Homo sapiens: one gene and its partner. The protein of the gene in region 1 purifies or fractionates together with the protein of each later gene. This does not show direct contact. Each region holds a gene or a part of one and is shown on either strand. Other genes may lie near its edges. The genes, in order: STAP2 and STAT5A.

The links.
Region 2: the proteins of STAP2 (region 1) and STAT5A purify together in Homo sapiens (co-immunoprecipitation; one study listed by IntAct). This does not show direct contact.

The regions. Positions count from the first base shown.
Region 1 is NC_000019.10:4,328,762-4,332,570, forward strand, and holds part of STAP2 (signal-transducing adaptor protein 2), read right to left. Parts: intron 3,318-3,809; coding exon 3,261-3,317; intron 1,301-3,260; coding exon 1,200-1,300; intron 49-1,199; coding exon 1-48. UniProt on the Homo sapiens protein: Substrate of protein kinase PTK6. May play a regulatory role in the acute-phase response in systemic inflammation and may modulate STAT3 activity.
Region 2 is NC_000017.11:42,291,321-42,295,129, forward strand, and holds part of STAT5A (signal transducer and activator of transcription 5A), read left to right. Parts: intron 1-651; coding exon 652-741; intron 742-3,809. UniProt on the Homo sapiens protein: Carries out a dual function: signal transduction and activation of transcription. Mediates cellular responses to the cytokine KITLG/SCF and other growth factors. Mediates cellular responses to ERBB4.

The DNA of each region.
Region 1 (3,809 bases):
CGCTCCAGGAGCAGTTGTGCCTCCAGCCGGCTCACCTTCAGGAAGCACCTGTGGCGGGCCGCGTCACCCACTCGGGACCCCGGAGACCAAGTCCGCTCTTCTGCACGTAAACCCTGCCTCCTCTGAGACCCAGCCCCATCCCCATCCCCTAGGCCCAGGAGACCCTGCCCTGCTCTCCAGACCCAGGCCCCTCCCACGGAGACCCAGTCCGGCCTTCCAGGCTCCTAGTTTTTGTGGGGTTTTTTGTTTTTTTTTTGAGACAGGGTTTCGCTCTTGTTGCCCAGGCTGGAGTGCAATGGCGCTATCTCGGCTCACCGCAACCTCCGCCTCCCGGGTTCAAGCGATTCCCCTTCCTCACAGGCCCGGCTAATTTTTGTATTTTTAGTAGAGACGGGATTTCTCCATGTTGGTCAGGCTGGTCTCAAACTCCCTACCTCAGGTGATCCGCCCGCCTCGGCTTCCCAAGGTGCTGGGATTACAGGCGTGAGCCACTGCATCTGGCCGGGTTTTTTGGTTTTTTTTTTCTTTAGAGATGGGGTCTCGCTATGTTGCCCAGGATGGGTCTCGAACTGGGTAAAAGCAATCCTCCCGCCTCGACCTCCCAAAACGCTGAGATGACAGGCGCGAGCCACCGCGGCCAGCCAGGCTCTTAATTCTGGCCCCGGAGATGCAGCTCCAACCCCTAGGGAGACCCAGCCCTGCCTCGTAGGCACCTAGAGCCTCCCCTGGAGATCCTGTCCCGCCCTCCAAACACCTAGACCTTACCCTGGAGGCCCTGCCCGCCTCCCTGATCACCAAGAACCGCCCACAAAGACGATGCTCCGCCCCCCATCCAGGCCCCGCCTCTAGGGTCCCGGTTACCCTCTCCGACAAATAACTCCTCCCCGGAGACGAAGCATCACCTTCTAGACACCTAGACTGACCACCCCCAGACCCTGTCCCTACTCCTCAGGCCTAGGCCCCGCCACTGAAGACCTTACCAGTCCTCTAGGCCCCTAGACCCGCTCCTGGAGATCCTGCCCTGCCTCCCCAGCATGGGCCATAACTCCCCCTCCCCCTCCCCCACCCCCAGCCCCAAGGCAGTCCTCATGCAAAATCCAAGACCCAACTCCAGGGGACCCAACTCACCGCCCACCCTCAGCCACACAACCACCTCCCGTCCCCATCCTGCAGCCCCTCGGGACAGGCGGGACACTCACGAGGGTGTCTCCAGTGCACGGCGCGCCTCCTCTTTGGCCAAGACTTCAGACATCATGTATAGGTGCCCAGGAAGCAGGGTCAAGTCGGTCGGGACACGGAGCTGAGGGGCGATCGAGGGACAGTGACTGCACCTGGCCAGCCGGGAATGGACGGCTGTGCCCAAGTCACAGAGTGGCAAATTGAGGCCAGAGCTCAGAGCAATGAACTCTGACACCTTAGAGGGCAAAGAGGGCTTCGAGAGGGTTGCAGAGGAGTGTTGCATGAGAGTAGATGCTGGGGCCGGGCGCGGTGGCTCACGCCTGTAATCCCAGCACTTTGGGAGGCCGAGGCGGGCGGATCACCTAAGGTCAGGAGTTCGAGACCAACCTGGGCAACATGGCGAAACCCCGTTTGTACTAAAAATACAAAAAATTAGCCGGGCGTGGTGGCAGACACCTGTAATCCCAGCTACTCGGGAGGCTGGGGCAGGAGAATCACTTGAACCTGGGAAGGCGGAGGCTGCAGTAAGCCAAGATCACGCCATTGCACTCCAGCCTGGGTGACAGAGTGAGACTCCGTTCCCCGCTCCCCAACCCCACCAAAAAAAAAAAAAAAAGTAGATGCTGGAATCTAGGGTCTCAAACTAAAGTCTGCAGGGGCCAGGCAGGTCTCAAACTCAATGGCCTGCCAGGGTGAGGTAGGAAACAGGGAAATCAGAGGGAAATCAGGAAGGTAGACTAAAATTCCCGGTTGATAAATGATGTCAGCTAATTTTTTTTTTTTTTTTTTTTTTGAGATGGAGTTTAGTTCTGTCACCAAGCTGGAGTGCAGTGGCGCGATCTTGGCTCACTGCAACCTCCGACTCCCGGGTTCAAGCCATTCTCCTGCCTCAGCCTCCCGAGTAGCTGGAATTACAGGCTCCCGCCACCACGCCCAGCTGATTTTTGTATTTTTAGTAGAGACAGGGTTTCACCGTGTTGGCCAGGATGGTCTTGATCTCCTGACCTCATGATCTGCCAGCCTCGGCCTCCCAAAGTGCTGGGATTACAGGCGTGAGCCACCACGCCTGGCCAATGTCAGCTAATTTTTAAAAACTTAGCACTCTGTGGCCAGGCATGGTGGCTCACATCTATAATCCTATCACTTTGGGAGGCCAAGGAGGGTGGATTGCTTGAGCACGGAAGTTGGAGACCAGCCCGGGCAACATAGTGAGACCCTGCTCTACAAAAAAATTTTTAAATTAGTCAGATGTGGTAGTGTGTGTCTGTATCCCAGCTACTTGGGAGGCTGAGGCAGGAGGACTGCTTGAGCCTGGGAGTTGGAGGCTGCAGTGAGCTATGATCACACCACTGCACTCCAGCCTGGGCAACAGAGAGAGACCTTGTCTCAAAAAAATAAAATAAGAAATACGGTTGGTCGCTGTGGCTCACGCCTGTAATCCCAGCACTTTGAGTGGCCAAGGCGGGCAGATGACTCAAGGTCAGTTCAAGACCAGCCTGGCCAACAGGGTGAAACCCCATGTATACTAAAAATACAAAAATTAGCCAGGCGTGGTGGCGGACGCCTGTAATCCCAGCTACTCGGGAGGCTGAGTCACAAGAATTGCTTGAACCGGGGAGGCAGAGGTTGCAGTGAGCTGAGAACGTGCCATTGCACTCCAGCCTGGGCAACAGAGTGAGACTCTGTCTCAAAAAAATAAAACAAAATTTTGGCCGGGCCCGGTGGCTCACGCCTGTAATCCCAGCACTTTGGGAGGCTGAGGCGGGTGGATCACGAGTTCAGGAGACAGAGACCATCCTGGCTAACACAGTGAAACCCCGTCTCTACTAAAATACAAAAAAATTAGCCGGGCGTGGTGGCGGGCTTCTGTAATCCCAGCTACTCCGGAGGCTGAGGCACGAGAATGGCGTGAACCCGGGAGGCGGAGCTTGCAGTGAGCCGAGATCGCACCACTGCACTCCAGCCTGGGCGACAGAGCGAGACTCCGTCTCAAAAAAAGAAAAAAAGAAAGAAAGAAAAAGGAGGCTTTTTGAGGAGATCTGGAGAATGGGAGAGAGGGCGCAGAGAGCCACTACTCTTACCTCCACCACCGTTAAGATGAAGCCTTTCCACATTTCCCGACACTCCAAGGTCTCTACCTGGGGAACAAAAGAAAGGAAAGAATCCAAGTCAGTGAGCCTCAGTCTACTCATCAATGAAATTGGACTAGGGAAGAGTCCCTGCTTCAAAGGGCCGTTTTCTTTTTTCTTTTTCTTCTTTTTTTTTTTTTTTTTTTTTTTTTTGAGATGGAGTCTCATTCTTCTGTCGCCCAGGCTAGAGTACAGTGGCGCGATCTCAGCTCACTGCAACCTCCACCTCCCAGGTTCAAGCGATTCTCCTGCCTCAGCCTCCTGAGTAGCTGGGACTACAGGCATGCACCACCTCGCCCAGCTTTTTTTTTTTTCTCTTAGACATGAGGGTCTCGCTTTGTTGCCAGGCTGGTCTTGAACTCCTGGGCCCAAGCTATCCTTCTGCCTTGGCGTCCCAAAGTGCTCAGATTACAGGCATGAGCCACCATGCCTGGCTGATATTATGATTTTTGATGTTATTATATCAACATTTGAAAAACATAGATCAGGCTGGATGCAGTG
Region 2 (3,809 bases), on another chromosome or scaffold:
CTGCTGTGTGGTCCAGTTCCTAACAGACCACCGACCTGTACCAGTCCATGGCCCAGGGGTTTGGGACCCCTGTGTTACAGTCAAAAGATACGGTAGATTGGAAGTGCTTCATAAGACTGGGTATGATGGCTCACACCTGTAATCACAGCACTTTGGGAGGCCGAGGCGGGTGGATCACCTGAGGTCGGGAGTTCGAGACCAGCCTGACCAACGTGGAGAAACCCCGCCTCTACTAAAAATACAAAATTAGCCGAGCGTGATGGCACATGCCTGTAATCCCAACTACTCAGGAGGCTGAGGAAGGAGAATCGCTTGAACCCGGGAGGTGGAGGTTGCAGTGAGCTGAGATCACACCATTGCACCTTTAGCCTAGGCAACAAGAGCAAAACTCCATCTCAAAAAGAAAAAAAAAAAAAAGAGAAAGTGCCTCATAAACTGTGGGTTTTTAATTCGCTCCAAACCAGATATGAAGATCTTGGAGGGGAAGATGAGGATGAGGAACAGAGATATAGAGGTGTCTGGGGATAGTTCCTGAGGCTCCCTGGGAAAAGCTGAGGCAGAGGCTGAAGGAGAGGAAGGGCTGGGCATAGCATGGGGCTGGCATGGCTGGAGCAGAGGATGGCGCTGGAGGCTACTGTTGGATTCTTTCAGAAAACATATGACCGCTGCCCCCTGGAGCTGGTCCGCTGCATCCGGCACATTCTGTACAATGAACAGAGGCTGGTCCGAGAAGCCAACAATGTGAGTGTCCCTTGGGGATGGGGAGGAGTGTTGAGAAGTCCCTCCATATGCCTTTCTCTCCAGAAACAACTGTGTTTATATAAAACAGCAGCACGAGGAGAGCACCAAGAAGATGAGGGACGTGGGCAAGTGTAAGAGGTGGCAGCATTGCACGCCGGGGTGGAGTGACCCCCTGGATCCAGTCCCTGGCTCTACCACTTACTAGCTGTGTGACTTGAGCAAGTTGCTTAATCTCTCTGAGCCTCTGTTCCTGTTTTTTTTTCTTTTTTCTTTTTTCTTTTTTTTGAGACGGATTCTTGCTCTGTCACCCAGGCTGCAGTGCAGTGGCGTGATCTCGGCTCACTGCAAGCTCTGCCTTCCAGGTTCACACCATTCTCCTGCCTCAGCCTCCCGAGTAGCTGGGGCTACAGGCGCCCACCACCATGCCCGGTTAATTTTTTGTATTTTTAGCAGAGATGGGGTTTCACTGTGTTAGCCAGGATGGTCTCAACCTGACCTCGTGATCCGCCCACCTCGGCCTCCCAAAGTACTGGGGTTACAGGCGTGAGCCACCACGCTTGGCGCCTACTGTTTTTTCCCCCCCGAGATGCAGTCTTGCTCTGTTGCCCAGGCTGGAGTGCAGTGATGTGATCTCTGCTCACTGCAACCTCTGCCTCCCAGGTTCAAGCAATTCTCTTGCCTCAGCCTCCCGAGTAGCTGGGATTACAGGTGCCCACCACCATGCCCGGCTAATTTTTTTTGTATTTTTAGTAGAGACGTGGTTTCACTATGTTGGCCAGGCTGGTCTTGAACTCCTGACCTCATGATCCACCCGCCTCGGCCTCCCAAAGTGTTGGGATTACAGGCGTGAGCCACCGTGCCCGGCCTGTTCCTACTCTTGTAAAATGGAGATAGCAATCATACCTATCTGTGTCAGAAGAACTAACACAGGCAGGCTCAGAGAAGTGAGGCCCAGGGAGGGGTAACAGGGACACATCTCCCCAGTTCTGAAATAATAAAGGCACTGGGCATCTACATGGACAATGGCACAGTGCTGTACTATCTGCAATAGAGCAAAATGAATTTCACAACATGACGTGACAGAAATCTTAGAACAGTGACCGGAGCACAGGTCATATTTATTATTTCTTTCTTTATTTGTTTGTTTGTTTATTTATTTTTGAGACTGAGTCTCACTCTATCATCTAGGCTGGAGTGCAGTGGCGTGATCTCGGCTCACTGCAACCTCCACCCCTTGGGTTCAAGAGATTCTCATGCCTCAGCCTCCCAAGTAGCTAGGATTACAGGGGCCCACCACCATGCCCGGCTAATTTTTGTATTTTTAGTAGAGACAGGGTTTCACCCTGTTGGCCAGGCTGGTCTCGAATTCCTGACTTCAAGTGATCCACCTGCCTCGGCCTCCCGAAGTGCTGGGATTACAGGCATGAGCCACCACGCCCGGCCTATTACGTATTTATTGTTGTGGACATGGATTTCAGGATTTACTCAGTAGACATTTATTGAGGTCTTACTGTGTGTCCGATGCTGGGCTATCATCAGAGAAACACATAAAGGCCTGGTTCTTGCCTGGAAGGAATTCTGGCAGTGATGGATTCTCTAGAGATGAGCTGAGTGCTAAGGGGGCCTAGGTGGAAAAAGCACCCAACTCAGATTGGGGCAGGCTGGCAGGGGAGCGTCCTGTGGACAGGCATGTCTGAGCTACAGTGGAGAAAGGCAGGAGAGGAGGGATGAATTTTCTAATGAAAAGACAGCAGCTGCGAGAGCAGGAGGGCATGAATCTTCTTATCACATTGGAAGACTTGTAAGTGGTCAGTGTAACTGGGGAGAAGGAACCAAGTGGGGAGTTGCCATGGATAAAAATAGATAGAGAGGGCCAGGCGTGGTGGCTCACATCTGTAATCCCAGCACTTTGGGAGGCCAAGGTGGGCGGATCACCTGACGTCAGAAGTTCGAGACCAGCCTGGCCAACATGGTGAAACCCAGTCTCTACTAAAAAATACAAAAATTAGCTAGGCGTGGTGGCGGGCGCCTGTAATCCTAGCTACTCGGGCGGCTGAGGCAGGAGAATTGCTTGAACCCAGGAGGGGGATGTTGCAGTGAGCTGAGATTGCACCACTTCACTCCAGCCTGGGCAACAGAGCGAGACTCTGTATAAAAAAAAAAAAAATAGGGGTTAGAAACCAGGTCACAAAGGGTCTTCCAGCACAGCCCCTGTGTCCCTGACTTGTTGCCATCACAGAGCTATCTGCAAACCTAAAAATGACTTCAGCCTCATTGACAAATCCATGTCCATGGTGCTGGTGCTGTCATGGTCTGGGAGCTCATTCCTTCCTCCAACCATACAACTGTTCCTGAACACCCCTGGCATTCTAGGGCTTGGGGATTCTGTAGTTCACAGGAAAGGCAAGGTCCTAGCCCTTGGGAACCTCACATCCTTGTGCAGGGAGACAGACAGAAACATGTAAGCAAATACAAGAACAACACACTTTTAGATAGGACTACTGTGAATTGGCTCGTCAGAGATGACCCCTCTGCAATGGTACCAGTTAAAGTGCTTTGCCTCAGGAGGATCTGATGCCAGAATGTTCCAGACTGTTGGAACAATAAGTGCAAGGGCCCCAGGGCAGGAACATGCCTGTGTGTTCAAGGAACAGAAACAGAAAGCACACATTCCCAGCGAGCTGGGGTTGGAGGTAGGCAGGGCTATGGCCAGCAGACACCATGGGAAGGGGTTTGGATTTTATTCTGAGAACAGTTCATTGGAAAGCCTCTGAGGACTTGTTCCTCTTCATCCATGTGCTCCCTCCCTTTGTGACCTGGTTTCTACCCCTCTCTCTCTATTTTTTTTTTTTTTGAAACGGAGTCTCGCTGTGTTGCCAAGGCTAGAGTGCAGTGGCGCAATCTCGGCTCACTGCAACATCCCCCTCCTGGGTTCAAGCGATTCTCCTGAATGTGCTGAAGGAATGGCTGGATCCAAGGGGAGCTTGTTGATGCCTCCCCTCTAACTTCATTTCGGGGTCTCCAGGATGCCTGTGAGAGTTTCGGCCTCTTCCCTCTTCCTTCAGTCA